4 linked regions of the Homo sapiens genome follow. The protein of the gene in region 1 purifies or fractionates together with the protein of each later gene. This does not show direct contact. Each region holds a gene or a part of one and is shown on either strand. Other genes may lie near its edges. The genes, in order: MILR1, PLAA, GLMN and INPPL1.

Region 1 (7,949 bases):
TACCCAACAAAGAATGTATGCAGGGGACGGGGTGCTAAAGACATTCCTGGGGGCAGGGACAAGCGGAAATGAATTATATTCATGCCTATTGGATATTTTCTTTGGATTTTGTATGCTGTTTCGATTTTTATAATTTTTTTTCTTAAGGAAAAAAACACATATTTTTTTCTTAAGGAAATAGACACTGGCCAGGCGTGGTGGCTCACGCCTGTAATCCTAGCACTTTGGGAGGCCGAGGCAGGGGGATCACCTGAGGTCAGGAGTTCGAAACCAGCCTGGCCAACATGGTGAAACCCCATCTCAATTAAAAATAAGAAATAAGCCAGGCATGGTAGTGCATGCCTGTAATCCCAGTTACTTGGGAGGCTGAGGCAGGAAAATCGCTTGAACTGGGGAGGCGGGGAGGCGGAGGTTGCAGTAGGCCGAGATTACACTATTCCACTCCAGCCTGGGCGACAAAAGTGAAACTCTGTCTCAAAAAAAAAAAAATAGACACTGTTGTTGCAAGCCTATGGGTTGCCTGAGGGCAAGTATGGGCTCCAGGTAGGTCTTTTGAGGAAAGGATCTTGTTTTTATCTTTCATGTAAAAGTTACTTTATCTTTCTCAATACCTCAGTGGTTTTGAACCCAAGCCTCTGGGAAATGTCCCAACCTCCTGTCCTCACTCAGTGCACCATACTACCAGGCTTAGAGGAGGCTCTTTCTCCTTATGGAGGACCAAGGAAAGGTGTTGTCAAGGTCTGCCATTATCCCATCTTTCCTCCTTCTCCATAATAGGAATATTAATGCAGAAAGAAATAATTGAAAGAGGAGCGGCCAGGCGCAGTGGCTCATGCCTGTGATCCCAGCACTTTGGGAGGCCAAGGAGGGCGGATCACCTGAGGAGTTCGAGAACAGCCTGGCCAACATGGTGAAACCCCGTCTCTACTAAAAATACAAAAATTAGCCAGGCGTGGTGGCAGGCACCTGTAGTCCCAGCTACTTGGGAGGCTGAGGCAGGAGAATTGCTTGAACCCAGGAGGCAGAGGTTATAGTGAGCCAAGATCATGCCGTTGCACTCTAGCTTGGGGGACAAGAGCAAGATTTCATCTCGAAAAAAAAGAAAGAGGAGCTAGAATAAGAAAATAAAAGCTGGAGAGAATGTGGAGAAATAGGAACGCTTTTACACTGTTGGTGGGAGTGTAAATTAGTTCAACCATTGTGGAAGTCAGTGTGGTGATTCTTCAAGGATCTAGAACTAGAAATATCATTTGACTCAGCAATCCCATTACTGGGTATATACCCAAAGGATTATAAATCATGTTACTGTAAAGACATATGCACACGTATGTTTATTGTGGCACTATTCACAATAGCAAAGACTTGGAACCCACCCAAATGTCCATCAATGATAGACTGGATTAAGAAAATGTGGCACATATACACCATGGAATACTATGCAGCCATAAAGAAGGATGAGTTCATGTCCTTTGCAGGGACATGGATGAAGCTGGAAACCATCATTCTCAGCAAACTATCACAAGGACAGAAAACCAAACACCACATGTTCTCACTCATAGGTGGGAATTGAACAATGAGATCACTTGGATACAGGGAGGGGAACATCACACACTGGGGCATGTCGGGGGGTTGGGGGTTAGGGAAGGGATAGCATTAGGAGAAATACCTAATGTAAATGATGAGTTTATGGGTGCAGCAAACCAACATGGCACATGTATACCTATGTATCAAACCTGCACATTGTGCACATGTACCCTAGAACTTAAAGTATAATAATAAAAAAAATAAAAATAACATTCTACTCTCCAGATATAGCTATTGTTAACATTTTGAGAAAATATCCTTCCAGATAGTTTTTCTCTTTCTTTCTTTCTTCCTTTCCTTTCTTTTCCTTTTTTAATTTAGAGACAAAGTCTCATTATGAGTCTCCCAAAGTGCTGAGAATACAGGCATGAGCCACTGTGCCCGGCCTCCAGATAGTTTTTCTATGTATACAAATTATGCACTTTCTTATTTAGAAAAATGATTTATGTTATTACAACTGTTAATAATACCTTTTCTCTTTTCTTAAGTATATTGTGATTCTCTTACCACATCATGAAATGTTCTTCTACATCACCATTAAAAATTCTTTTTTTTTTTTTTTTGAGACAGTGTCTTTCAAAAGTGCAGTTCTGAATCAAGGCAGCCTTGAAGTCTTGTTATTATGGCAAGCCCTCCAGTGCCAGGAGAACTGAGGTAGGAGTAAACTCAGATCAGCCTTTGAAATAGAATGTGTGAGGCCAGGTGCAGTGGCTCATGCCTGTAGTCTCAGCACTTTGGGAGACTGAGGTGGGTAGATCACTTGAGATCAGGAATTTGAGACCAGCCTGGTCAACATGGCGAAACCTCATCTCTAGTAAAAATTAAAAAAATTAGCTGGGCGTGGTGGCAAGTGCCTGTAATCCCAGCTACTTGGGAACCTGGGAACTGTGGAGGTTGCAGTGGCCCGAGATGGCGCCACTGCAGCTATTACTCCAGTTTGAAAATACTAGAAGTTGCCAATATATATTTTTTCCATTGCCAGACTTGTCTGCAATTTGTACTGGATCTGATAGAGAAACCATTTCCATGGGTCTATATGAAAATGTGGAGCCGGGGGTAGTGGCTCACGCCTGTAATCCCACAACTTCGGGAGGCCGAGGCAGGCAGATCACCTGAGGTCAGGAGTTCGAGACCAGCCTGGCCAATGGGGTGAAATCCCGTCTCTACTAAAAATACACAATTTAGCCAGGTGTGGTGGCACGTACCTGTAATCCCAGTTACTTGGGAGGGTGAGGCAGGAGAATCCCTTGAACCCAGGAGGTGGAGGTTTCAGTGAGCCGAGATAGCGCCACTGCACTCCAGCCTGGGCAACAGAGCGAGACTCCATCTCAAAAAAAAAAAAAAAAAAAGAGAGAGAAAGAAAATGTGGGTGCGGGGAATGATTCTATGGTTGTCTGTTCTTTTCCAGCTGGCCAGCAGTGGTAGCCAAAAAGTGACAGGATGCTGATGAAAAACATTGCAGACGTGAAGAAAAGAAAAAGTTGATGGAATTTTGCACATGTATCTGACAGTTCACCCATCCAAACTTTTATAAAGTGCTGTAAAGTTGTTGTAGTAAGGGTGGGGCATGGTGGTTCATGCTTGTAATCCTAGCACTTTTGGAGGCCACACGCAGGAGAATCGCTTGAGCCCAGGAGTTCAAAACCAGCCTGGGCAATATAGTGAGACTTCATCTCTATAAAAAAGTTAAAAACCTAGTAGTGTATGGTGGTTTGTGCCTGTGGTCCCAGCTACTAGAGAGGCTGAGGTGGAAAGATAGTTTGATTCTGGTAAGTGGAGATTGCAGTGAGCCAAGATGGTGCCACTGTGCTCTAGCTTGGGAGACAGAGCAAGATTCAGTATCAAACCTCCTAGCTAGAGGATGCTAGCTAGGTGACGCTGAGTCAATAAGGAAGGATTTGGTTACATCTTGGGACCTAAGGTACAGAGATGAATGTCCCAGCTCAAGGCTGCCCCAGCCATTCAACTCCTTGCTTCCTCTCTTGGTGGACCTGTCAATTCTTGCAAGTGTCAACCAGCTGTCTTGCCCACCTAGCCCTATAGTCATACCTTTCTATCCTTTTGGTGATCTCCACTCCATCAAGAAGTGGCTCTGCACATTCTATTTCAACTGACTTTTTTTTTTTTTTTTTGAGACAGAGTTTTGCTCTATCACCCAGGCTGGAGTGCAGTGGTGCAATCTTGGCTCACTGCAACCTCCACCTCCCGGGTTCAAACGATTCTTCTGCCTCAGCCCCTCAAGTAGCTGGAATTATAGGCACGCATCACCACACCCAGTTAAGTTTTTTGTATTTTTACTAGTGATGGGATTTCGCTGTGTTGGCCAGGCTGGTGTCAAACTCCTGACCTCGGGTGATCCGCCTGCCTCAGCCTTCCGAAGTGCTAGGATTACAGGCATGAGCCACCGCACCCAGCCTGCACGTTCTATTTCAAAGGCTGATCTAAGGTAACTCCTACTTCAGATCTCCTGGCACTGGAGGGCTTGCCGTAATATCAAGTCCCCAAGGCTCCCTTGATTCAGAAATCACTGAGGCAGCAGCACCTTGTACAGATATTTCTCAGCCTTCACTGTGCGTAAGAATTGCTCAGGGCCCTTGTTTAAAAAAAAAAAAATCAGCGTCCTGGACTTGAAACCCAGTAAGTCTGGAGTGGGGTCTAGGAATCAACGTTTAACAAAAGCAGGCATTTTTGGCCAGGCACAGTAGCTCACACCTGTAATCCCAGCACTTTGGGAGGCTGAGGCGGGAGGATCACTTGAGCTCAGGAGTTTAACACCAGCCTGGGCAACTAGACCCCTGTCTTTACAAATAAAAATAATTAGCCAGTCCTGATGGTGCACACCTGTGGTCCCAGCTACTCAGGAGCCTGAGGTGGGACGAGCACTTGAGCCCAGGAGTTTGAGGCTGCAATGAGCTATGATCACAGCACTCCACTCCAACCTGGGTGACAGAGTGAGGCCAGTCTCAAAAAAAAAAAGCAGGCATTTTTGATACAATATTTGTATGTATCTGCTTAAGACAGTCGGTTTGCTTCCAAAGACTAAATCAAACTTCCACCAAACTCCTTTTGGCATAGACTGAGTCCAGAGCAAGGAGATCAGATGGGTTTACATAGACAATGTAACAGTCAGATTTACCTCTTCTCTTTCCCAGCCAGCATGGGACGATGTGGGGGTGTGGGGGGGTGGGGGGGGCGGGGGAGTGGCAATCTACCAAATATCTCTCTTCTTACAGGAACTCACAGAGGAAGACAGATTGGTCGAACAAACCAGTATTATGCAAACCTCATCCAAACCCTCTGATTTCCTTAACTTGGCTAAGAAAAAGAGGAAGTTCTCCGAGTTACTCACCACTGTGGTTCTACTATGCCTTCTGACCCCGTCTTGGACTTCAACTGGGAGAATGTGGAGCCATTTGAACAGGCTCCTCTTCTGGAGCATATTTTCTTCTGTCACTTGTAAGCCCCCCTTATCATTCTGAGGCTCGAACCTCCAAGCCAACGTGTCATGTGGAAAGTGAGCTTTATCGTGTTCCTTTTCTGTTTCAGGTAGAAAAGCTGTATTGGATTGTGAGGCAATGAAAACAAATGGTAAGTTTCATTTACTTCTTTCTTATTGAAACCATTTTCACTGAAGTGGTGAGACAGTCTGATTGCAACATAAGCGTCCATTCAAAAGTGTTTCTGAGCTTTTATGAACAACCAAAGAACAGTCTTTTCAATTATCTATCATTTAAAATAAAATGATTTTAGGGAGGGGATTGCAGCATTTTTTTCTGAGACTCAGTGAGAAAAATAATGAAATTTGTTTTCACAATGAAAGTTTTCTAACTTTCCTTGTTATTGTTGTTTTATGGTTGTTGTGTTTTAACTAGAAAGCCAACACACAGGCTGGGTGTGGTGCCTCCGGCCTGTAATCGCAGCACTTTGGAAGGCTAATGGGGTAGGATTGCTTGAGCTCAGGAGTTTGAGACCAGCCTGAACAACATAGTGATACCTCGTTTCTTAAAAAAATAAAACAAAATAAAAAAACCCACAGAATTATTGTGAAATAATTCAAGCAACACTAGAAATATACATTGGGAAGTGGTCTAACCTCTGGTTCTACTAGTTACTAGCCAGCAGCCTGAGCTCATGACATACCCAGTTTGACCTTAATTTCTTTCTTTCTTTCTTTCTTTCTTTTTTTTTTTGAGATGGAGTCTCAGTCTGTCGCCCAGGCTGGAGTCAGTGGTGCAATCTCGGCTCACTGCAACCTCTGCCTCCCAGGTTCAAGTGATTCTCCTGCCTCAGCCTCCCGAGTAGCTGGGACTACAGGCGTGTGCCACCAAGCCTGGCTAATGTTTTGTATTTTTTGTAGAGACGGGGTTTCACATCGTTAGCCAGGATGGTCTCGATCTCCTGACCTCGTGATCCGCCCACCTTGGCCTCCCAAAGTGCTGGGATTACAGGCGTGAGACACTGTAATTTATTTCATCTGTGAAGTGGGCTAATAAAAGCACCTACCTGGTAGGCTAGTGTGCAGATCAAATGAGACAATCCCTGCTCCTCGTCACAGTGCCAGGCATATGGTAAACCATCCGTAAGTGATAGCCAAGGTGGTGGTTGTTACTGTATAAAATGTAAAAGTTCTGTTACAATCCTCCTCCAATTCTTCTCCCCTTCCTATCCAGAAGCAGCCGTTATCAACAGTCACTTTATATTCGTTATCTTTTTTTGTTTGTTTGTTTTTGAGACAGAGTTTCACTCTTGTTGCCCAGGCTGGAGTACAGTGGCACAATCTCGGCTCACTGCAACCTCCGCCTCCTGGGTTCAAGGGATCCTCCTGCCTCAGCCTCCCGAGTAGCTGGGATTACAGGCACGTGCCACCATGCCTGGGTAATTTTTGTATTGTTTTTTGGTAGAGACGGGGTGTCATCATGTTGGCCAGGCTGTTCTTGAACTCTTGACCTCGTGATCCTCCTGCCTCTGCCTCCCAAAGTGCTGGGGTTACAGGCATGAGCTACCACACCAGCCTTAGCTCCTCTTTTTCAACAGCTGCATGGTATTTTAAGACTCAGCCATGATTCGTTTAACCATCCTTATTTATTGCCCTGCTTTTTGGGGGCAATATAAACAATGCTACAATAAACATCCTTGTACACAACGTCCTTTGTGGATGCATGAGAGCTTGAAAGCATCTCTGTAGAATGAAATTCTAGAATTGAAATTGCAAGGTCATAGGGCATACACATTTAAATTGTTACAGACCCTGCTAAGTTGCCCTCCCAACAAGGCTGATCGTATCCTATCAGTCACCAACGGTGGGTGAGTTTCCCCACCCACTCCCCAGTGGTGGATATAATCACTTTTACTTTTAAATTTTATTTAGGGTTTTTTTTTTTCTTTCTTTCTTTGAGACAGAGTCTCTGCTCTGTCGCCCAGGCTGGAGTGCAGTGGTGCGATCTTAGCTTTCCGCAGCCTCGACCTTCCAAGCTCAATTGATCCTCCCACCTCAGCCTCCTGAGTAGTGCCATACAGGTACGCACCATCATGCCCAGCTAATTTTTGTATTTTTAGTAGAGACAGGGTTTCACCATTTGCCCAGGCTGGTCTCGAACTCCTGGACTCAAGAGATCTGCCTGCCTCAGCCTCCCAAATTGCTGGGATTACAGGCATGAGCCACCATGCCTGGCCAATCATTTTTAAACTTTGTACCAATCTGATGAGTGAAAAATGATATCTCAGTGTTGTTTTAATTTGCAGTTGCCTCATTACTTGTGAAGTTGAGCATCTTTTTCATGTTTACTGGCCACAAAAGCTCTAGCATTCCTAGATAAAAAAAACTTAGGGATGGCTATTTGGTTGGAAAGGTAGTTTAGGTCTTGTCTTAAAGTTGAGTTTATATGGCGGGGCACAGTGACTCACACCTGTAATCCCGGCACTTTGGGAGGCTGAAGCAGGCAGTCACTTGAGGTCAGGAGTTCAAGACGAGCCTGGACAACATGGTGAAACCCTGTCTCTACCAAAACTACAAAAATTAGCTGGGCATGGTGGTGTGTGCCTATAGTTCAGCTACTCAGGAGGCTGAGGCAGGAGGATCAGTTGAGCCTGGAAGGTGGAGGCTGTGGTGAGTCAAGATGGTGCCACTGCGCTCCAGCCTGGGCAACAGAGTGAGACTCTGTCTCAAAAAAAAAAAAAAGTTGAGCTTATATAAGACTGAGAAAATGTTAATTGTCCAGATCAAAGAGTGGGAGGAGAGTTTACTGCATTTTTAAAAGCATTTTTGAAGAGTCTAAATCTGTCTTCCACCCAAGCCATCCATTGGTCCCAGCTATGTTTTTTTTTTTTTTTGTTCTGTTTTGTTTTTTAAAAATTAGAGACGAGGT
Region 2 (7,092 bases), on another chromosome or scaffold:
TCCATTCCCCTAACACCTTCATTTTCCTCTTCTGGGAGCAAGATAATAAAGACTAAGATATTCAAAAGGAACTACATATATGGAAAAAATTAGAAAGTGAAAGTGCATGCCCAGGGAAAAGCACAGGCTCAGAAAAGACTGAGAAGACTAAGTTTACATCTTAGCCCGATATTTGAAACAAAGACACCCTTCAACAACAACAACAACAAAAAGATAATACACAAAAACATAACAAAAAACAGCAAACCCTGGAAAAGGGGAAGAATATGATTTCTAGAGTTATATTATTAGATTAAATGTTCACTTTCAACCACAACAAAAAAATCACACGCATACAAATAAACAGAAAAGTATGGCCCATTCAAAGGAAAAATTAAGTCAATAGACACTGTCCCTGAAAAAGACCTGGCAGCAGATCTACTAGACAGAGACTTTAAAACAACTGTTTTAAACATGCTCAAAGAACTAAAGGAAGATGGAGAAAGTCAAGAAAATTATGCATGAAGAAAACTGAAGTATCAGTAAAGAGGCAGAAAACCTATAAAGAAACCAAAAAGAAATTATGAAGATGAAAGGTATGATAACTGAAATGAAATTATTCACTAGACAACTTGAAGACAGATTCAAGCAAGAAGAAATAATTAGCAAACTTGAACATAGGACAGTAGAAATTATCAGGTTTGAAGAACACAAAAAAAGACTGAAAAAAAAAAAAATGAACAGAGCCTAAGGGACTTGTGGAACAACATGAGGTAGGCCAGCATACAGATTGTGGCAGTCCTAGAGAGAGGGGAAAGGGAGCAGAGAGAATATCTGAAGAAATAATGGCTGGAAACATCCCAAATTTGATGAAAGACATGAATATAAACATCCAAAGAAACTCAACAAACTCCAAGAAGATAAATTCAAAGAGACCCACACCAAGTCACATTATATTCAAACTTAAGAAAGGGAGATACAAAGAATCTTGAAAGCAGTAAGAAAGAAGTAACTTATCACATACAAGGGATCCTCAATAATATAATTAGTAGATTTCTCATCAAAAACTTTGGAGGTCAAACTGAGTGCAGTAGCACACACCTGTAGTCCCAGCACCTCAGGAGACTGAGATAGGAGAACCGCTTGAGCCCAGAAGTTGGAGGCTGCAGAGTGCTGCGACCACACTCAAGAACAGCCACTGCATTCCAGCCTGGTCAACATAGCGAAACCCCATCTTGAAAAATTTTTTTGGAGCATTAGCTAGGTGTGATAGTACACACCTGTAGTCCCAGTTACTTGGGAGGCTAAGGCGAGAGGATCCCTTGAGCCTGGGAGTTTGAGACTTAAGTGAGCTATGACTGTACCACTGTATGCCCGCCTGGGCCAAAAGAGTAAGACACCATTTCTTAAAAAAAAAAAAAAAAAAAAAAATGGTGAGGGAGTTTGCTGCCATGAGACCTCCCTGTAAGAAATGCTTAAAGGAGCCTTCTCGCACAGTGAAATGAAAACACACTAGACAGACTTGAAGCAATATGAAGAAATAAAGATCTCAATAATGGTAAATACGATAGTGGTTTATAACTCTACCTTTTGATTTCTATGTCATTTAAGAAACATTACATTAAAAAAATTAGCCTAAAAGCTAATGATATTGTAACTTTGGTTTGTAACTCCAAATTTTTCCTACATAATTTCAGAAATTAAGGCATTTAAAGTAATTATTACTTTATGTTTTTAGGACACAGAGTACATACAGATGTAATTCTGTGACACCAACAACCAAAAGGGGTGAAGATGGAGCTATAAAGAAGAATTTTTGTTTGTTATTGAAGTTAAATGTATACATTCAAATTAGAGGATTACAACTTTAGGATATTAAATATAATCCTCATGGTAAACACACACAAAAATAGAATATACACTAAGGAAATGGGGAAGGAATTTAAACATAAATAAACTAGGCCGGGCGCCGTGGCTCACGCCTGTAATCCCAGCACTTTGGGAGGCTGAGGCCGGCGGATCACAAGGTCAGGAGATCGGGACTATCCTGGCTAACACGGTGAAACCCCATCTCTACTAAAAATACAAAAAATTAGCCAGGTGTGGTGGCAGGGGCCTGTAGTCCCAGCTACTCGGGAGGCTGAGGCAGGAGAATGGCGTGAACCCAAGAGGTGGAGCTTGCAGTGAGCCGAGATTGCGCCACTGCACTCCAGCCTGGGCCACAGACTGAAACTCCGTCTCAAAAAAAGATAAAAATAAAATAAATAAATAAACAAACATATAAATAAATAAATCAACTAAACACAAAAGAAGACAGTAATGCAGGAGATGAGAGACCAAAAAAAAAAAAAAAAAAAACCAAACAAACTTTAAGGCATATAGAAAACAGACAGCAAAATGGCATCGGTGATTACTTTCAATGTAAATGAATTAAATTCTCCAATCAAAAGACAAAGATTGGCAGAAACCATTTTAAAAAACATAATCCAGCTCGGTGCTGTTTATGAGACTCACTTTAGATCCAAAGACACAAATATACTGAAAGTGATAGGATGAAACAGGATATTCCATGAAAACAGCAAACAAAAGAAAGCAGGAGCAGCTATATTAACATTAGACAAAATTGACCTTAAATCAAAAAAAGAAAACAAGAGACAAAGAAGGATATTATATATTAATAAAAAGTTCGGTACAGGAAGAAGATATAACAATTATAAACATTTATGCACATAATATATAAAACAAAAACTGACATAATTGAAGTGATATATAGATAGTTCTACAATAATAGTTGAAGACTTCAATATCTCAATCTCAATAATGGATAGAATAATCAGACAGAAAACATGTAAGGAAAAAGAGGACTTAACAAAATAAATCAACTAGAACTAACAGACATACAGAATATACTACGTGAAAGCAAAGACACCTGCTACAGAAAAAAGTATGGAAATTCCTAGAAAAATTAAAAATAAAATTACCATATGACTCAGCAATTCCATTTCTGGATATATTCCCAATGGAAATGAAAGCAGGATCTTAAAGAGATATGTGTATAACCATATTCATAGTAGCATTATTCACAATAGCTCAAATGTGGCATCAACCTAAGTGTCCATCAATGGATGAATAAACAAAATGTGGTATAAACATGAAATTTTATTCAGCCTTAAAAAGGAGGGAAATTCTGACATATGCTACAACATGGAAGAACCTTGAGGACATTGTGCTAAACGAAATAAGCCAGTTATAAAAACACAAATACTGTATGATCCCACTTATATGTGGAACTTAGAGCTGTCAAAATCATACAGACATAAAGTAGAATCGTGGTTGCCAGGGTCTGGGGGTGGAGACAATGAGTTATTGCTTAAACAGGTACAGTTTCAGTGTAAAGAGATAAAAAGAGTTAAAAGATGGATGGTGGTGATGGTTACACATTATGAATATACTTAATACCATTGAACTGTACAGTTTAAAATGGTTAAGATGGCAAATTTTATGTTTTGTGTATTGTATCACAATAAAAAAACTGGAGGAAAAGAATTAACAGCACTATATACCTCCAGAGGTGAGGACAAAGAGGCAGGAACTAAGATAAGAAAGACTAATCGAAAGTCTTCAGAATCTGAAGCATTATGAAAAAGTCTTCAAAGAAAGATACCTGGTAGTAACCAATTTCAACTTGTTCACTTCATTTTAGGGGGTGTTGTTTTTGTTTTTTAATGCTTTTGAAACCATTTTATCAATAAGCCCAGAGGAAGTCAAAAGATAGAACATGTTTTAAAATCTGTATTATGTAAACCACTAAATCTACCCACTATGTGTAACCCTTAACACTTCAAAGCATAGATGTTTGTGTGCATCTTCGGTAGTGGTCTGTGAAGTTCTTAATGGCAGAATCCAGATTAGGTTCTTTGTGTCTTCCCAAGTCCCTAGCACAATGTTTTAAATGGTTAGCATTAAGTATTTCTTAAACTGATTTTAAAAAATACTTAAGGTATTAAGACAAAAAAAAAAACAAAAACAAAACACGGGGGGTGGGGGAGGGATGTGCAGCTAGACAACCCAGCCAGACAACTGTCCTGCTAGTACTCAGCAAAAGTCTGAAGCTTTTTCTTTAAAAAGAAAATCTTTGAATGGGGGGACATAAGGATAGTTGAGTCTTGGGAGTGTGAAGAATGTGTATATTCCTACTGGAGCCCAAGACCACCAAAAGAAAACCCTGGAAACCATACCCTCATCCTCTAGGCAGCAGATCAGCCCAATATAATGGCCCTACCAGATAACTCAACAGTAAAACTCACAACCAGCAAGCCCCATCCAGGAGCACAGATCTCCCAGGAGCTTCTTAATTCTCTACCCATAACACTGAGCACACAATAAAGATTACCAGACATCTGGGGAAAGCCTCCAGCATGAAATACAGTGATCAAAACAAATAGAGATGAGAAAAAAACCAATATGGAGGAAAACAGACCATTAAGGAGGAAATACCTTAAAACATTTTTTTAAATTGTCATTATCATCCTTAGAGGTATAAGATATTGCAACCATGAAACAAGGACATAATTTCACAAAGTCAAGGCAACCTGCTAGAGATTACAGCCAAGAAAAAAAAAAAAGAGAGAAATTTAGAAAGCAAGTTCAATATCTGAATAAAAACAGTTCCAGAAAAAAGAAGACAGAAAAAATAAAGAGAAAGCAGCCAAAGAATTAATTGAAGAACATTTCCCAGAATTTATGGACATGAGTTTTCATATTAAAAGGGCCCGCCAATGGCCTGGAACAATGGATAGAAGTAGACTGCCTTCCAGAAAGAAAAAAAAAATAGTTCAAAAATCAGAATGGCTTCAGACTTCTCAACAGTAACACTAGAAGATGAAATACAATGGATTCCATCACAATTCTGAAAGAAAATTATTTTAAAATTAGAATGCTACAACCATTCAAATTATCATGCCAGTAACAAGGCAAAATAAAATAACTTTCAGACTTGCAAGGTCTTAAAACATTTATTACTGATGCACTACATTTCAGGAAGCTCTTAGAGGTTATGTTCCAATAAGGCAACAAGGAAGAAAACCAACCAAGAGAAAGCTAAAGGATACTGACAATAAAAATCCAACATATGAGGTTCAAAAAAGTTGTTTTGGAAACAACAATGAAGGGAAATCCTAGGATTAGTTGTGCATCAGAGGTAGACAGACCAGGTCAGAAAGTTTGCATTGTCAGGAGAGGAAATTGTAAAATATCCAATGTATCTAAAGGCCTTAAGAGGTGATTCGGTAACGAACAAAGACTTTGAAATTGACTCAGTGATAAATACATAGTAAGCTAAGCAAATGAAAACCAAAATAAAACAATTATTAGCCACATGCAGATCATAAAATTGTTGAGGAAGAGTTATCATAGATTATTCCACAGCTTAAATTATAAGAGTCAGAGCACGGAGGCCGGGCATGGTGGCTCACGCCTGTAATCCGAGCACTTTGGGAGGCCAAGGCGGGCGGATCACGAGGTCAGGAGATCCAGACCATCCTGGCTAACACTGTGAAACCCCGTCTCTACTAAAAATACAAAAAATTAGCCGGGCGCCGTGGCGGGCGCCTAAAGTCCCAGCTACTCGGGAGGCTAAGGCAGAATGGCGTCAACCCGGGAGGCGGGGCTTGCAGTGAGCCGAGACAGCGCCACTGCACTCCGGCCTGGGCGACAGAGCGAGACTCGTCTCAAAAAAAAAAAAAAAAAAAAAGGCACAGAAAAAGATGCATACGTGATGGGGTGAGTGGAAGGCAGAAAGAGAGCTAAATTCTCATATTCTACAGTAGGAACTAATAGATTACAACTAAAAAATCTATTAATATAGATTAATATAATCAGATCCTATATCTGAAGATGTGTCTTCAAGCATGGGTCGTTTTTCAAAAGGCAAGGCAATATAAAGGCAAAGCTGCTGAAGTCCTATCTCACTCATCTCTCCCCACCCAGAAGTCAACGACAGACTTGGGAAATGTAATTTAGCTTGAAGCTAGCTTATAGAGACCTGAAGTAGTCTGAAACAATGGCATGTTGCTGGCTCAGTTCAATGCCCAACCAACAGATATGTCTCCACTCTGAAGGTCCAAAGACTTTCTGGGTTTTCAAAGGGCTTTTGTGAAAGACTAGGTACCTGGTTTAGTCTACTCTAAAACAGAACTATTTCTGCCTCCCTAGAACTAACTTTCCCCATTATTCCCAGTCCATCCCTACATTTACTACCCTGATCTAGAACCTTAGCAACAACATACATGGAAAGCAGTGGTAAATTCATTTGCATCAGAGGTAGACAGACCAGGTCAGATTCAGTAAGAGGCAATTCAGTAATGAACAAAGAATTTGAAGTTGAATCAGTGGTACTGATTCAAATTTACAGTGGTAAATTTCATTTACCACTTGGCTACATGGGAAAGCAAATTTCATTTACGACTTCACTCCAAACATTTATAGCATTTCATTAACTCTATTAATATGCTGTTATGAGCTGGGAGTGGTGGTTCACACCTTTAATCCCAACACTTTGGAAGGCTGAGGCAGGAGGATTGCTTAAGCCCAGGAGTTTGAGACCAGCCTGGGCAATCTAGTAAGACGCTCATCTCTACAAAAATAAATAAATAAAAATTAGCTGGGCATAGTGGTTCTTGCCTGTAGTCCCAGTTACTTAAGAGGCTGAGGTGGGAGGATTGTTTGAGCCCAGAAGGTCGAGGCTGCAATAAGGCAGTGATCATGCCATTGCATTCCAGCCTGGGCAACAAAGCAAGACCCTGTGTCAAAAAAACAAAATCACACAAATATTCTATTATGGCCTGAACGTGTCCCCCAAAGTTCATGTGCTGGAAACTTAACCTTCAATGCAACCATGTTGAGAAGTAGAACCTTTAAGAGGTGATTAGATCAAGAGGGTTCTGCCGCCATGAATAGATTAATGTCATTATTGCGGGACTGGGTTAGAGAGTGGCTTTGTTACAAAAGCAAGTTTGGCCCCTCTGCGCCTCTTGCTGTGTGCTCTCCTACCCTTCCACCATAGGATGATACAGCAGCAAAGAGGCCCTCTCAAGATGCCGATACCTTGATAAT
Region 3 (7,092 bases), on another chromosome or scaffold:
TCACTATATATGTATCTGCATATATTTTAATCTGTAGGAGCTGCTGGAGAATAGTTTATTGAGAATAGAAGACAATAGTCTACTTTACCAGTACTTAGAAATCAAGAGTTTTCTTACTGTACCTCAGGTAAATAAAATATGTATTCTAATATTGAAAATAGCCCTTTGCCTGTTCTGAACTTAAAGTAAGGTCTTTTCTGATTCCTTTCCCACTCTTTTCTCTGCAACCTTTGAAAACTCTGGTGTAATGCTGTCCAGTAGAACTTTGACAATATGAAAGCCACTAGCCAAACTGAACACTTGAAATGTGACTAAGGAACTATTTTTTTTTTTTTTGAGGTGTAGTCTTGCTGTGTCGCCCAGGTTGGAGTGCAGTGGTGCTATCTCAGCTCACTGCAAGCTCCACCTCCTGGGTTCATTCCATTCTCCTGCCTCAGCCTCCCGAGTAGCTGGGACTACAGGCGCCCGCCACCACACCCAGCTAATATTTTTGTATTTATAGTAGAGACGGAGTTTCACTGTGTTAGCCAGGATGGTCTCGATCTCCTGACTTCGTGATCAGCCTGCCTCAGCCCCCCAAAGTGCTGGGATTACAGGTGTGAGCCACCACACCCAGCCGGAACTAAGTTTCAAATTTAAATTTTAATTTATTTAAACACGAATAGCTATTAGAGGCCACCATTATTGATAGCACAGCATCCAGTAGAAAAGCATAACTTTCTTCTTTTAACACTTTATTTCTGTAGGGATCTTGGAAAATGAAGCTTCTTTATGTTTCTCATAACTCAAGTTCTCAGGACTCCATCTAAGGCATCCACTGACTCATTACCAGAAAGACTAATACACATTGTGTTTTTCCCTCCTATGGTTTATTTTGCCCAATCCTCTTTGTTAGTTATGATATCCAAGGAAATCCTTAGATTTCAGTGTGGGAACTGGTTTTCCTAATATTTAAATAGAAAAACATGGTTTTTGTTAACATATTGTTTGATTGTTTTTAATTAATAAATTATATTTCTGTAGATTTGATTTCATTTTCTTGCCACTGTAGACATAATTGAAAATTATCGTTTGCTTTTAAAAGTACACTGTGTGACACTCTACTCAATATCACTTAAAAAATCAATTGTAGTTAGCTTTCTGGAATGGAAGGCTTAGGGAAAAATTAATTTACTTCACTTTTAAATCTCCTACCCTCACTTCTCTGAATTTTTAGTATCCTATTGATGTATTATAGTTGTTTGTTTGCAGTCAGTATAATCTGTTTACATCTGAATTTTACATTTTTTTATTTCCAGGGCTTAGTGAAAGTAATGACACTTTGCCCCATTGAGACACTGGTATGTAAATATTTGGTGACTAAAGAATAATGAGTTACAGTGAGAAAATTTGACAAATAATTTAATTTTCTTTTTAAAAATTTTAATTTGTGAAATTTTTATTTAGGAGGTACAAGTGTGGATGTATTACATGCATAAAATGGATAGTGATGAAGTCTGGGTAAGCTTTATTCATTTTATATAATAATATTGTTTGTTCCATTTTAGAGGAAAAAGAGTTTAGCTATGCTTCAGCTGTATATTAACAAGTTGGATTCACAAGGCAAATATACATTATTTAGGTATGTATCAAGCATGGCTAATTGCTAAGTGTGTGGTTGATTAAAAGTCATGTTAATGCCATGTAATTGTTTTAGGGCATAGTATGTCGGTATGTTTTACATGTAATTCAACTCTGGTTGGAACCCATATTATAAATTCTCAGTGATGGCTAGAGAAAGGGTTAATCAAATATTTCAGACATACTATATATATGTCTATATTTTGTATGACTAATAGTATATATTGCAGTTCAATCAATTGGAATACTCTAAATTTGAAATAGACTTAAAAATAATTAAACTGAGATTGATGATGCTCCTGCTGGAACTTTATGTATGTCACTAATCTCCATTACTCACAGTTCAAATTGATGGCTCTGGAATTACAACTTTGATAGGCTATGCACTATGTTAATAGTAAGAGCTTACTAATACTGCTCTTTGAGGTGGATAAGATTCTAGCAACTCTCTAAGTTAAAGATTGGTAAACTTTCTAATTAATTTTCTGTGAAGAGCCAAATAGTAAATATAGGTTTTATGGGCTATACAGTCTCTGTTGCAAGTGCTCAACTTTGACTTTGTATTGGGGATGGGTGTGTTCCAGTAAAACTTTATTGATAAAATTGGGCATCAGGCTGGATTTGCTAAAATGTCTTACCTGGGATTGGCCAATATTAGTACTGTTCTTTTTTGGCGGGTGCAGCAGTGTGATCATGGCTCACTGCAGCCTTCACCCTTGGCCCCCCAGCTTCAGGTGATCCTCCCGCTTCAGCCTCCCAGGTAGCTGGGACTACAGGTGCATGCCATCATGCCCAGCTAATTTTTTTGTGGAGATGGGGTTTTGCCATGTTGCCCAGGCTGGTCTCAAACTCCTGGGCTCAAGCGATTCACCCACCTCAGCCTCCCAAAGTGTTGAGATGACACGCATGAGCCATCATGCCCAGCCAACACTCTTGATTCTATCTTTTCTTGTTTTCTATTGATAGTAAGAGCAAGTTTATGAAATCTCAATTCTTAGGTATTATACCGGCTTTCCTGTTCTGTTCTATGTGTATCTCTACCAATAAATCCCCTTTTTTTCTTAAGCTAGTCATATCTAGTTTTTTTTTTTTTTTTGCAATTAAGCTACTCTAGCACTGGACTACTTTCACAGGAAATAATTTGGGGATTTTTTAGACCATTATGTTAGTGCCCTTTCTTGCCATGTTAAATTATTGTAACTATGTTCATAAAAATATTCAAATTTTGGTTTGATAGAAATGGCTTGTTGGAAGATCCAGTTATAAATAAGTATTTACCGGCCGGGTGTGGTGGCTCATGCCTGTAATCCCAGCACTTTGGGAGGCTGAGGCAGGCGGATCACGAGGTCAGGAGTTTGAGACAAGCCTGGCCAACATGGTGAAACCCTGTTTCTACTACAAATACAAAAAATTAGCCAGGCACGGTGGCGGGCGCCTGTAATCACAGCTACTCAGGAGGCTGAGGCAGGAGAATCGCTTGAACCCGGGAGGCGGAGGTTGCAGTGAGCCAAAATTGTGCCACTGCACTCCAGCCTGGGCGACAGGGCGAGACTCTGTCTAAAAAAGTAAAATAAAATAAATAAGAATTTACCATTTAGTGAGAGCAATAACTATTACAGGTGACTTTGTAATTGGTTGATGACCTTGCTAATTACCATTACTGTGGGGTTTTTATTCCTAGAAGTAACACATGGCCTCTTTGAATTTGTAAAACTTTTATCACCATTTAATTCTAATGCTGTCCAGGATAATTTCACATCTATTGTAATTTTGCTTTCAAGGTGCTTATTGAATACAAGTAATCACTCAGGTGTGGAGGCTTTTATTATTCAAAATATCAAAAATCAAATTGACATGTCATTAAAGGTAAGAACATAGCCAAAGTGTCAATTACCAATTTATTTCGTAGGGTATATTTATTCATATGTAGAATACATTAATGTGAGTTATTGCTCTATCTCTAGTATTACTATTACTTAAATATTATTAAGGCATATTTTTTCCCCTATTTCTACTATGTTTTAAAAACTCTGAATTTGGAAATTTAGTTAACTATAAGTTTAAATTGTATTCTTTGAGGTTTTGGTTTTTGTTTTTGTTTTTTTTGAGACAGGGTTTCACGCCTGTCACCCAGCTTGGAGTGCAGTGGCATGATCTCAGCTCACTGCAGCCTCCACCTCCTGGGCTCAAGCAGTTCTCCCAACTCAGCCTCCCGAGTAATTGGGACTACAGGTGTCCACCAGTGCGCCTGGCTGAATTTTGATTTTGTAGAGATGGAGTTTCACTGTGTTGCCCAGGCTCGTCTTGAACTCCTGATCTCAAGTGATCCACCCACCTTGGCCTCCCAAAATGCTGGGATTACAGGTGTGAGTCATCACTCTGGGCCTCTTTGAGCTGATATTGTGGCTTATTTTTGCTTTGTTATATGCTTCTCAAAAATGAATGGAAACTTAAGTCTCTTCTGTTTCTGAGTGCTCAGTAATTCTAAATGGAAAACAGAGTGACCAGTGTTCTCAAACTGGCAGGGTTCGTTCCTGGTGTCTGGAAAGTGAATGAAAGTACGGAAATTAAAGTTAAAAACTGTATTTTAAATGTGCAATTCTTCATTTTTGTAGTGTCAAGGTATTAGAAAAACACATGAATTACATGAATTATAAAGCTTTCTCAATTTTTCGTTTGCTTTTCAGAGAACACGTAACAACAAATGGTTTACAGGACCACAGTTGATTTCCCTTCTTGATTTGGTACTTTTTCTCCCAGAGGGTGCAGAAACAGATTTACTGCAAAACTCAGATAGGTGAGGTGACCATTACCAAAGTTCACATAGTAAATTCAGAATAAAATGTGAAACATCTGCTTAGGGAACCTAAAGTAATAAAATGTCTTTTCCTGTGATTTTATGATCTATGGCTAATTCATTAAGTTACATAAAGATTTTTCATATTTAAGTGATTTGATAATGTGTAGAAACAAAATTAAAACCTCCTCTTTCTAGATGAATGACCAGCACTATGATTTGATAGCTTTTATGTACCCAGCATTCCATAGAAATTTGCAATGACAGCACTTGTGACTTAAAACTAAAAATCTGTGTATGTAATTTATGTGTTTAGGTTTTGTTGTTTTATTGTTTTCCAGGTCATTTTTTTTTTCATATAGAACATATAATTTCAGTTTCAGTATACTGGAATGGATATTGAGAAATGGTTTAAAGCATTTAAAAAGTAATCTTAAAATTCAGAAAGCAAGAGATGATGCTCTCAAATATTAAAGATAACAAGGCTTTCTTTAAACAAGGATGATAATTTTCACAATTGTATGATTTAAACAAATGGAAAACAGTGATAAGTTATTACTACTCAAAAAGATATTAATGGAAATAGTTTCTATTGGCAAACCTAATTATAAAAATATGACCAAAGTTTTAGCTTATTGAGATTGCTGTTGACTATATAAAACCATACTGTAAGTAACATATATTTTTAATTAACAGGATTATGGCTTCATTAAATTTATTGAGGTATTTGGTTATCAAAGATAATGAAAATGACAATCAAGTAAGTGAAGTATTTGAAAAGAAACTGTGAGTATATTCAAAAGGCATAAGGAATGTTTCAGATATTCAGTACCTAAAGCCAATATTTAATATCTTACCCAGATATAAAGGCCGGGAAGAGTGCCAACAATTATTCTGAAACCTGAAGTTAATTCCCAGGAGCATTTACCACCCCACATCCAGCTTTCCTTTCCCTTTCCATTTCCTATTGTACGTCTGCTTTCTTGCTGAAAGCACTTAGTCCTGTTGGGTGGATAAGTTGCAGGTCCTAAGTCAACTAACCTTGTGGAGCTCAACGTACATATGGTGTCTTGTTCAGTTTCCTCCACCTATAGCTCATGAGCTGTATAAAATCATCTGATATTTTAATATTGCCTCATCAGACATGACAAATTGAAGCATTTTCAGCACTAAAACAGAATTTGTTAACAGCACCTTTTAGATATGTTTAGGAAGTTGGATTTTTTAAAAATAGCACATCATTAGAAGTATTCAATAAATAGAGAAGTATTCAATAAATAGAAAACTATTTGAGGGAGATTTGTCATACAGTAAAATTATATTTGCTTTTTATCTTCTCTTTCTACCCTGTTCTGATCATTGCTTTCCCTATATGTGTCACCTCTATTAGCTAGAACTACCTGAATCATGTGTTGTTAATTGGTTTTTTTTTAGTAATTCATTTTTATATAAAGATGCCAAAGAAAATTTTTTTTAAATTAGGTAAATCGTGATTTGGGATGAAGGTTTATGAGAAAAGTAGCAGTCTCTTTCCTTCCTGACAGATCTATAGTAGATTCAGTGATTTGAACCCCCGTTCATCCCTCTTCAGCTGAAAATAGCTATTTGCCATCATTGACTAGTGCTTACTCTGTATCAGGTGCTATTTTTTTTTAACATTTTGTTGTGAAACTTTTCAAATGTACAGCAAAGTTGAAAGAATTTTATAGTGATCATTGGTTTACCCACCACCTAGAGTCTATGATTCTACTGTACTAACTTCATCATGTATCTATCACTCCACCCTCTGTCTATCACTCCGTCAGTCTATTTTTTGATGTATTTCAAAGTAAACTGCAGACGTCAGCATACTTTCTCCGAAATATTTCAGCATGTATTTCATTACATTGATTAAATATTTGTCTGTAGTTTTTCTTTGAAGTAAAATTTACATAATGAAATGTTCAAATTTTAAGTGTATATTCACTGAATTTTAACTAATACATAGATCTATATTACTCAAACCCATATCAATATAGAACATTTCCAGCATCACAAGAGGTTCCTCATACCCCTTCCTAGTTAATTCTGACCTCGTTGTGCTACTCACCCCTGCCAGGGACAACCACTATTCTGCCCAAGTGCTGTATATCATTCATTCTTCAGAGAGCGTCTCGTTCTCTTGCCCAGGCTGGATTACAGTGGTACAATCATGGCTCACTGCAGCCTCGACCTCCTGGGCTCAAGAGATCCTCCCACCTCGGCCTCCCAAAGTGCTGGGGTAACTTCCAGGCATGGGCCACCATGGAAAACCAAGAAAAGTACTCTTTATTTTTCACTTTTCATAGATAATGTAGGTGAAAAAAGTTCATTAACTTGCACAAGGGCAAACATCTGGAAAGTGGTAGAAATAGCTATGACCCCAGGCAGTGGCCAGAACTTTCTAAATCACAAACTAAATCCTGATTCCTGAAGGAGCTTGTGATAAAAATTGAAAAGCTACAATATAAAATTCAGCAGCAGTAGAGGCCCTGAGACTTCAGGAAGGTGGCCTTAGGGTAGGGTATGAGTTTTTATTTTTTTAGTAATCAAGAAAGGCTGTACCTACTTGAGAGATTATCTGACTTGCCTGACAAAAAGAAAAGGAATCTTGTTGATTAGGATTGATAGGTGTGTTAGATATGGAACACAGAGTA
Region 4 (7,092 bases), on another chromosome or scaffold:
ATGCCCCCACACTCCTCGGCACAAGTGCCCTAGACATACCCGACTCCAGCAGAGCCAGAGAGCAGCATAAACACAGGAGGCATACACACGTGTTAGCACGTTGCCCGTGTGTGCAAATGGGCTAACCAGGCTTCTGAAGACTCTTACTCTGGCGGGGAGCCCAGACTGGTACCACAGCCCAGAGGGGCTGTTTAGACAGCTGTGGAGGCCACAAAAGAGCTCCCTGTTGCTTCTCAGGCCCTGCCCTGTGGTGGGTGTGGAGTCTGTGTAGGTCTGGTGGGGAGACGGGGGTGTTCTGGTCATTCCTGCCCAATAGGCAACACCAGGAGGGTGGAAGTGGACCGGCCACATCATTAACCCTGTGCAGCCTGGGCAGGTGGTTTTAGGGAAACCAAGCTGAGGGGGTTGGGGTGCTGAGCTTGCTGGCAGGAGGAAGGGGTGCTTTGGGTCTTAGACCCCAGCCTGGGGGTGACAGATTCTGGCCCTGCCTTGGCATCAGGTATCAGAAGCATGTGCACACGTATCGCATTCTGCCTGATGGAGAAGATTTCTTGGCTGTGCAGGTAGGAGCTTGGGCCCCTGACCCCTGACCTTGATCCAGCCTAGGGCTTGGGGACCTGCTGGCTGACCCTTCCTCCCACCCTTGCTGGCCCACAGACCTCGCAGGGTGTGCCTGTGCGCCGCTTCCAGACCCTGGGTGAGCTCATCGGCCTGTACGCCCAGCCCAACCAGGGCCTTGTGTGCGCCCTGCTTCTTCCTGTAGAGGGTGAGCGAGAGCCGGACCCACCGGATGACCGGGATGCCTCAGGTACTTCCCAGTGTGCAGGTCCCCTCCCTGCCCCTGTCCCTTGGCTCTACCTGCCTCTTCCCATCCCCCCTTCTCAACCCCACCTCTCCTGTAACCCCCTTTCCCTTGGCCATGATGCCGGGGCCCTTTAACCCTCTTTCCATGGAAGTCACTTTACAGCTGCATCGTGCCTCCTACTCCACTGAGTGTGGGAGGCCCAAACGGCTGCCCACTGACCCCTGCCCACAGATGGGGAGGATGAGAAGCCCCCGCTGCCCCCGCGCTCTGGCTCCACCAGCATTTCTGCCCCCACTGGGCCCAGCAGTCCCCTGCCAGCTCCTGAGACTCCCACAGCTCCAGCTGCTGAGAGGTGAGACCCCCATCCCATCCACTGAACAGGAGACCCTTTCTCCTCTGAGAACTATTTCCCTACCAAAGGTGGGGAGGCCTTCTAAGACCCCACCAGGGACCCCCACCCCACCTCAGCCCAGAGGCAGATAACCTGATCCATCCCGCCCTGGTTGCCACAGGTACTATCTCCTCTAGGGATGGGGCAGAGGTGCTGGGACAGGTCAGCAGGACCTCCACTGACTTCTTAACCCCTCCCCAAAGTGCTCCCAATGGGCTGAGCACCGTCTCGCACGACTACCTGAAAGGCAGCTATGGGCTGGACCTGGAAGCTGTGAGGGGTGGAGCCAGCCACCTGCCCCACCTCACCCGTACCCTCGCTACCTCATGCCGGAGGCTGCACAGGTATCTGGGACATCCAGCCCCATGTATTACACCCTTACCTCTGACCTGTCCTCACCTGCTTCCCGGCTGCACAGGTGCCCTGATCTCTGATCCTGAACAGTGAACTAGCCATTGCCTCTTGACTTTCCTCACTGGTAGCCTTTATCCTTGTGGTGAGGTTGAGGCTACACCCAGCGCCCCCTTCCCTATACTTAGGTCGGGGTGGGAGTTCTTTTGATCTGATGTCTTCCCTAGTGAGGTGGACAAGGTCCTGTCAGGCCTGGAGATCCTGTCCAAGGTGTTTGACCAGCAGAGCTCGCCCATGGTGACCCGCCTTTTGCAGCAGCAGGTAGATTGTAGGGAGACCTCTGGGAGGTGCGTTCGTGTTCTGGAGCTGGGTGGGAGGCTCTGCTTAGGTGACTCATGTACAAGCCTGGTTCTTCCTCCCCCCAGAACCTGCCACAGACAGGGGAGCAGGAACTAGAGAGCCTGGTGCTGAAGCTGTCAGTGCTAAAGGACTTCCTGTCAGGCATCCAGAAGAAGGTGGCATGATCTCTGACCCTTGACCCCCGATTCACTGGCCACTGTCATTGGCCTAGCACTGATCTCAACCCTCAGTCTACAACTTAACATTGGCCCCAAGGTCAATTGTGTCCCTCCCTGCCCCAGCCTTCAGTGTGTCCCCTGACCCCGCCCTGCCCTTGTTCCCTCCAGGCCCTGAAGGCCCTACAGGACATGAGCTCCACAGCACCCCCAGCTCCGCAGCCATCCACACGTAAGGCCAAGACCATCCCCGTGCAGGCCTTTGAGGTACATGGCAGTGGGGCCTCACAGGGCCAAGGGTGGTTGGAGGTGACCAGGGTGCTGCCTACTCCAAGGTCTTGTCAGCAGCCTCCCCACCTGGCCTACAGGTGAAGCTAGATGTGACCCTGGGTGACCTGACCAAGATTGGGAAGTCACAGAAGTTCACGCTGAGCGTGGATGTGGAGGGTGGGCGGCTGGTGCTGCTGCGGAGACAGCGGGACTCCCAGGAGGACTGGACCACCTTCACGCACGACCGCAGTGAGCCAGGGCCAGACCTGGGAGGGGTGGGCAGGGCGGAGCCCCTGGCCTAGGGGCACAGGCCCATGTGACCGGTCCTCCATGCCCTAGTCCGCCAGCTCATTAAGTCCCAGCGTGTCCAGAACAAGCTGGGTGTTGTGTTTGAGAAGGAGAAGGACCGGACTCAGCGCAAGGACTTCATCTTTGTCAGTGCCCGGGTGAGCAGCAGGCTGGGCCAGGCCACTGGGGACTGCGGGGGTCCCCCACATGGGTGCTTCCCATTGGAGGGTAAGAAAGGGAACACATGATGTAGGCATGCCATCCCTCCTGGCAGGGGTAGGTCTGACAGGGTAGAGGGTGTTGAGAACGGGTGGCCTGAGGGTGGATAACATTTGCCAGCACTGTTATATGCTTGAGCAGTGGGTATGCAGTGGAGAACCAGACAGACCCTCTCCTCATGGACATGAGCCAACTGGCAGGGTATCCCTGTGGACGGGGGGCTTCCTGGATGCCTACCCGCCCCTGAGTGGCTGCTGTTCCCCCAGAAGCGGGAGGCCTTCTGCCAGCTGTTGCAGCTCATGAAGAACAAGCACTCCAAGCAGGACGAGCCCGACATGATCTCAGTCTTCATAGGCACCTGGAACATGGGTCAGGCCCGGGCTGGGGCTGGGGCGGGAGAGAGGGATGGCCCCAGAGCAGGTGCCTAACCCCTCCAGACCCACCTCACCCCCTTCACCTCCAGGAAGTGTACCACCTCCAAAAAACGTGACATCCTGGTTCACATCGAAGGGTCTGGGGAAGACCCTGGACGAGGTCACAGTGACCATACCCCATGACATCTATGTCTTTGGGACCCAGGAGAACTCAGTGGGCGACCGCGAGTGGCTGGACCTACTGCGCGGGGGCCTCAAGGAGCTTACGGATCTGGATTACCGCCCGGTGAGGGGGGGTCATCTTGTCCAGGACCCTGTCCTCACACACCACCTCCAAACTAGCCTACTTGACTTCATGGGCAACCCTGGGAGCACAGCTTCACTGGCTTTTTCTCTGGTCCCTGAGCATATCCTTTGGGAGATCTGACCTGAGTCCTTCATGCCACGAGAGGAACCATTTCTCTCCAGTCCGTCAGGAAGAGGGGTGGCAAGCCTTCCTACCCTGTGATGGACACAAAAGTCTATTTATAGTGCAGGGGGAAATGCAGGCAGTGGGTGCAGCAGGGCAGTGGTGACCATGCACTCTCTACCCAGATTGCCATGCAATCACTGTGGAATATCAAGGTGGCAGTGCTGGTCAAGCCAGAGCACGAGAACCGTATCAGCCATGTCAGTACGTCCAGTGTGAAGACTGGCATCGCCAACACCCTGGGTAAGTGGGGCTGGCAGGTGCCCAAGAGTGGCAGCGTCTCTCTGTCCATGGCTTCTGCTTCCTCTCAAGCCTAGGATTGCCCCATTTTTGGTGATCTTAGTTTCCCCATATATAGGGTACTTTGAACTTTGAAAAACATATTCATATTCTAAATCTCTCCCAGCACCACTGGGAAGGCAAGGCCAGGATAATTACCCCCTTTTCACAGATGATAAAACTCAAACCCAGAGTGGTTGAGTGACCTGCCCAAGGTCACACAGCAAGTAAGTGGTGGAGCCAGGCATTGTGCCCAGGTCTCCTGATTTTCGGTCTGGTGCTCTCCCAGGTAGATTCTGCGCAGAATCTGCAGGGCCTTTCAGCTTCACCCTTGGGGTCCCCTGTGATCTCCAGGGGCTCTGCTCACACATACAGACAGACTCAGGCCATCCACACAGACCATGTGTGCCCAATGAGGACCCCCCCCTCCCCCAGGGAAGGTGTGGGTGTGTGCAGGGGCCTGCCCATGTCACAGCGTCTGGTGGGCTCAGCGGGAGGATCCTCTCACTGCAGCTTTGAGAGGCAGAAGGGAGAGTTGGGAGCCCTCTGAGGATGACCCAGGCCTTCCTCTCTTGCTTGCCTTAACAGGGAACAAGGGGGCTGTGGGCGTCTCCTTCATGTTTAATGGCACCTCATTTGGCTTTGTGAATTGTCACCTCACCTCGGGAAATGAGAAGACGGCTCGGTGAGGGGGCGCCTTTCCCATGGTCTCTTTACACCCATCCCATTCACCTGAGGCCTGTTCCCGCTCCCATACCCTAGCCCATGACCCTCCCGCAGGCCTGTCTCCAGAGACCCCCTGCTCTCTTATCCCAATTCAAGACCCTTCTGTTCCTGACCCTAACCTTGTCCCCAGGGGCCCGGATCTTTACCCCATCCCTGACTCCTGAGACTTCTTCCCTTTATGCCTATCCCTGACTTCTGGCCCTGACCCTGGGGATCTACCCCTCCCCACCACGCACCCCTCACCCTAGGAGGAACCAAAACTACTTGGACATCCTGCGGCTGCTCTCGCTGGGCGACCGGCAGCTCAATGCCTTTGACATCTCTCTGCGTTTCACACACCTCTTCTGGTTTGGGGACCTCAACTACCGCCTGGACATGGATATCCAGGTGCGAGCAGGGCCCTGCCATGGCTGTAGGGAGGCTAAGGGCCACATGGGCTATCACCCCTGGCTCTGGCTCCGGAGGAATGTTTCTAGCCTTTGTGTCCTCCACCCCAGGAGATCCTGAACTACATCAGCAGGAAAGAGTTTGAGCCCCTCCTCAGGGTGGACCAGCTCAACCTGGAGCGGGAGAAGCACAAGGTCTTCCTTCGATTCAGTGAGTGTGGGCCTGGTAGGTGGTGATCTGAGGGCTAGGAGACTTGCAGTATCCCTGGGTGTCAGGGCCCTGAACCCCACCTGTCTCCTGCTTTCCTTAGGTGAGGAGGAGATCTCCTTCCCACCCACCTACCGCTATGAGCGGGGTTCCCGGGACACATATGCCTGGCACAAGCAGAAGCCAACTGGGGTGAGCCAAGAAAACGGCATGGGCCTTGGGGGACCGCAGGCCTGCGATGAATCAAGAATTTGGGTCAAGGGTATGGGCCTCTGCAGCTTCCACTCCAGCCTCCATGGCCCCTCTGAGGCCTTTGGGTGATCCTGGGTATTTTGAGGATCCAAGAAGGGAGGTGGGTGCTAGGGCCTCTAGTAATAGAAGTGTGGGGACTCATCAGCTCTGGAGTGGGGTCCATGCCAAGCAGCCTCCTAGCTGTCAGCTCTAACCATGCTGCCATCCCCTGCCCCAGGTCCGGACCAATGTGCCCTCATGGTGTGACCGGATTCTGTGGAAATCCTACCCTGAAACTCACATCATCTGCAATTCTTATGGTCAGAGCCTCCCGGACAGAGTGATGGGAGATCTGGGGTGGTCACCATCTGGACTCTGCCCTAACCTTGGGAGGTGGGAGCCGAGGGTGGGAATATTCCCCCTGAGTCCCCATTCCTATCCCCTCTCCCCAGGTTGCACTGATGACATCGTCACCAGCGACCATTCCCCCGTGTTTGGGACATTTGAGGTTGGAGTTACCTCCCAGTTCATCTCCAAGAAAGGTGACTGTTCCAGATATGCTTGTGGGTGTGGCATAATCTAGGTGGGCACAGGTGGTGGCCTCGGGATGTACATAGGTTTGACTATGTAAGTGTGTGTGTGGGTGTGTGTACCAGTGAGTGCAGGAGTGTTTCTCAAGGTGTGATGTGTCAGGGTGTCTGTGCGCCTGGGCCATCACAAGAGTTGTGTGCCCATGAGTGTGTGTGCATACGTGAGTGTACACCTATCTATGTGTCTGTGTCTGTCTAGGGCCACGTGTGTGTCCCTGAGTATGCCTGTAGGTGTGGGAATCCTGCAGGCATTCTGGTCCCCAGCACCCTCTTCAATGGGTTTTTTATCCTTGGGTTGTCTCTTTGCTCTGGTCCAGGGTCTGGCCTCTGGAGATTCCCTGTTGGTGGCTTGGGACTGGGGAGGCCCCTCCTGGCCCTGCCTCCTTGCTCTGGACCCCTGATTTCCTGTCCCAGGGCCCTGTTTCTCTGTCCCATTCCTCCTGTGATCCTCTCAGTCCTCCTGTTTGTTCTCCTCCCTTTCTCCTCAGGGCTCTCAAAGACTTCAGACCAGGCCTACATTGAGTTTGAGAGCATCGAGGCCATTGTGAAGACAGCCAGCCGCACCAAGTTCTTCATCGAGTTCTACTCTACCTGCCTGGAGGGTCAGAGGCGTGGCAGGGGCTGGGTGTGGGCCAAGGAGGATGGGAGGCAAGAGGGTGCAGTCAGCCCCCTACTTAGGGGGAAAGGAAGCTGAGAGGTGGTGCTCAGTTGGGTGTCTCCCACCCCCACCCCAGAATACAAGAAGAGCTTTGAGAATGATGCCCAGAGCAGTGACAACATCAACTTCCTCAAAGTGCAGTGGTCTTCACGCCAGCTGCCCACGGTGAGGCTGTGGGCAGGGCCCCTGCTTATGGGTGAGGGCACAGAGAGGGGTACATAAGAGTTTATTGGAGAGCCTGCCTGGGAGGGAGTGTGGGGCCAGCAGAGAGAGAGAGAGAGAGTGTGTGTGTGTGTGTGTGTGTGTGTGTGTGTATGGGCATGGGCATGAGT

Evidence for each region.
Region 2: the proteins of MILR1 (region 1) and PLAA purify together in Homo sapiens (co-immunoprecipitation; 3 studies listed by BioGRID and IntAct, with this or other methods). This does not show direct contact.
Region 3: the proteins of MILR1 (region 1) and GLMN purify together in Homo sapiens (co-immunoprecipitation; 2 studies listed by BioGRID and IntAct, with this or other methods). This does not show direct contact.
Region 4: the proteins of MILR1 (region 1) and INPPL1 purify together in Homo sapiens (co-immunoprecipitation; 3 studies listed by BioGRID and IntAct, with this or other methods). This does not show direct contact.

What each region holds. Positions count from the first base shown.
Region 1 is NC_000017.11:64,444,184-64,452,132, forward strand, and holds the start of MILR1 (allergin-1 isoform Allergin-1L precursor), read left to right. Parts: upstream 1-4,931; 5' UTR 4,932-4,985; coding exon 4,986-5,040; intron 5,041-5,130; coding exon 5,131-5,172; intron 5,173-7,949. UniProt on the Homo sapiens protein: Immunoglobulin-like receptor which plays an inhibitory role in degranulation of mast cells. Negatively regulates IgE-mediated mast cell activation and suppresses the type I immediate hypersensitivity reaction.
Region 2 is NC_000009.12:26,937,168-26,944,259, forward strand, and holds part of PLAA (phospholipase A-2-activating protein), read right to left. Parts: intron 1-7,092. UniProt on the Homo sapiens protein: Plays a role in protein ubiquitination, sorting and degradation through its association with VCP. Involved in ubiquitin-mediated membrane proteins trafficking to late endosomes in an ESCRT-dependent manner, and hence plays a role in synaptic vesicle recycling.
Region 3 is NC_000001.11:92,260,948-92,268,039, reverse strand, and holds part of GLMN (glomulin), read left to right. Parts: intron 1-37; coding exon 38-127; intron 128-1,298; coding exon 1,299-1,340; intron 1,341-1,446; coding exon of another isoform or gene 1,447-1,500; intron 1,501-1,547; coding exon 1,548-1,621; intron 1,622-3,401; coding exon 3,402-3,486; intron 3,487-4,307; coding exon 4,308-4,417; intron 4,418-5,113; coding exon 5,114-5,177; intron 5,178-7,092.
Region 4 is NC_000011.10:72,227,691-72,234,782, forward strand, and holds part of INPPL1 (phosphatidylinositol 3,4,5-trisphosphate 5-phosphatase 2), read left to right. Parts: intron 1-499; coding exon 500-563; intron 564-657; coding exon 658-808; intron 809-1,036; coding exon 1,037-1,157; intron 1,158-1,317; coding exon of another isoform or gene 1,318-1,399; coding exon 1,400-1,540; intron 1,541-1,774; coding exon 1,775-1,868; intron 1,869-1,972; coding exon 1,973-2,062; intron 2,063-2,233; coding exon 2,234-2,329; intron 2,330-2,430; coding exon 2,431-2,581; intron 2,582-2,671; coding exon 2,672-2,778; intron 2,779-3,105; coding exon 3,106-3,208; intron 3,209-3,302; coding exon 3,303-3,499; intron 3,500-3,807; coding exon 3,808-3,925; intron 3,926-4,549; coding exon 4,550-4,646; intron 4,647-4,935; coding exon 4,936-5,074; intron 5,075-5,184; coding exon 5,185-5,284; intron 5,285-5,384; coding exon 5,385-5,473; intron 5,474-5,750; coding exon 5,751-5,832; intron 5,833-5,964; coding exon 5,965-6,054; intron 6,055-6,590; coding exon 6,591-6,704; intron 6,705-6,836; and 2 more. UniProt on the Homo sapiens protein: Phosphatidylinositol (PtdIns) phosphatase that specifically hydrolyzes the 5-phosphate of phosphatidylinositol-3,4,5-trisphosphate (PtdIns(3,4,5)P3) to produce PtdIns(3,4)P2, thereby negatively regulating the PI3K (phosphoinositide 3-kinase) pathways.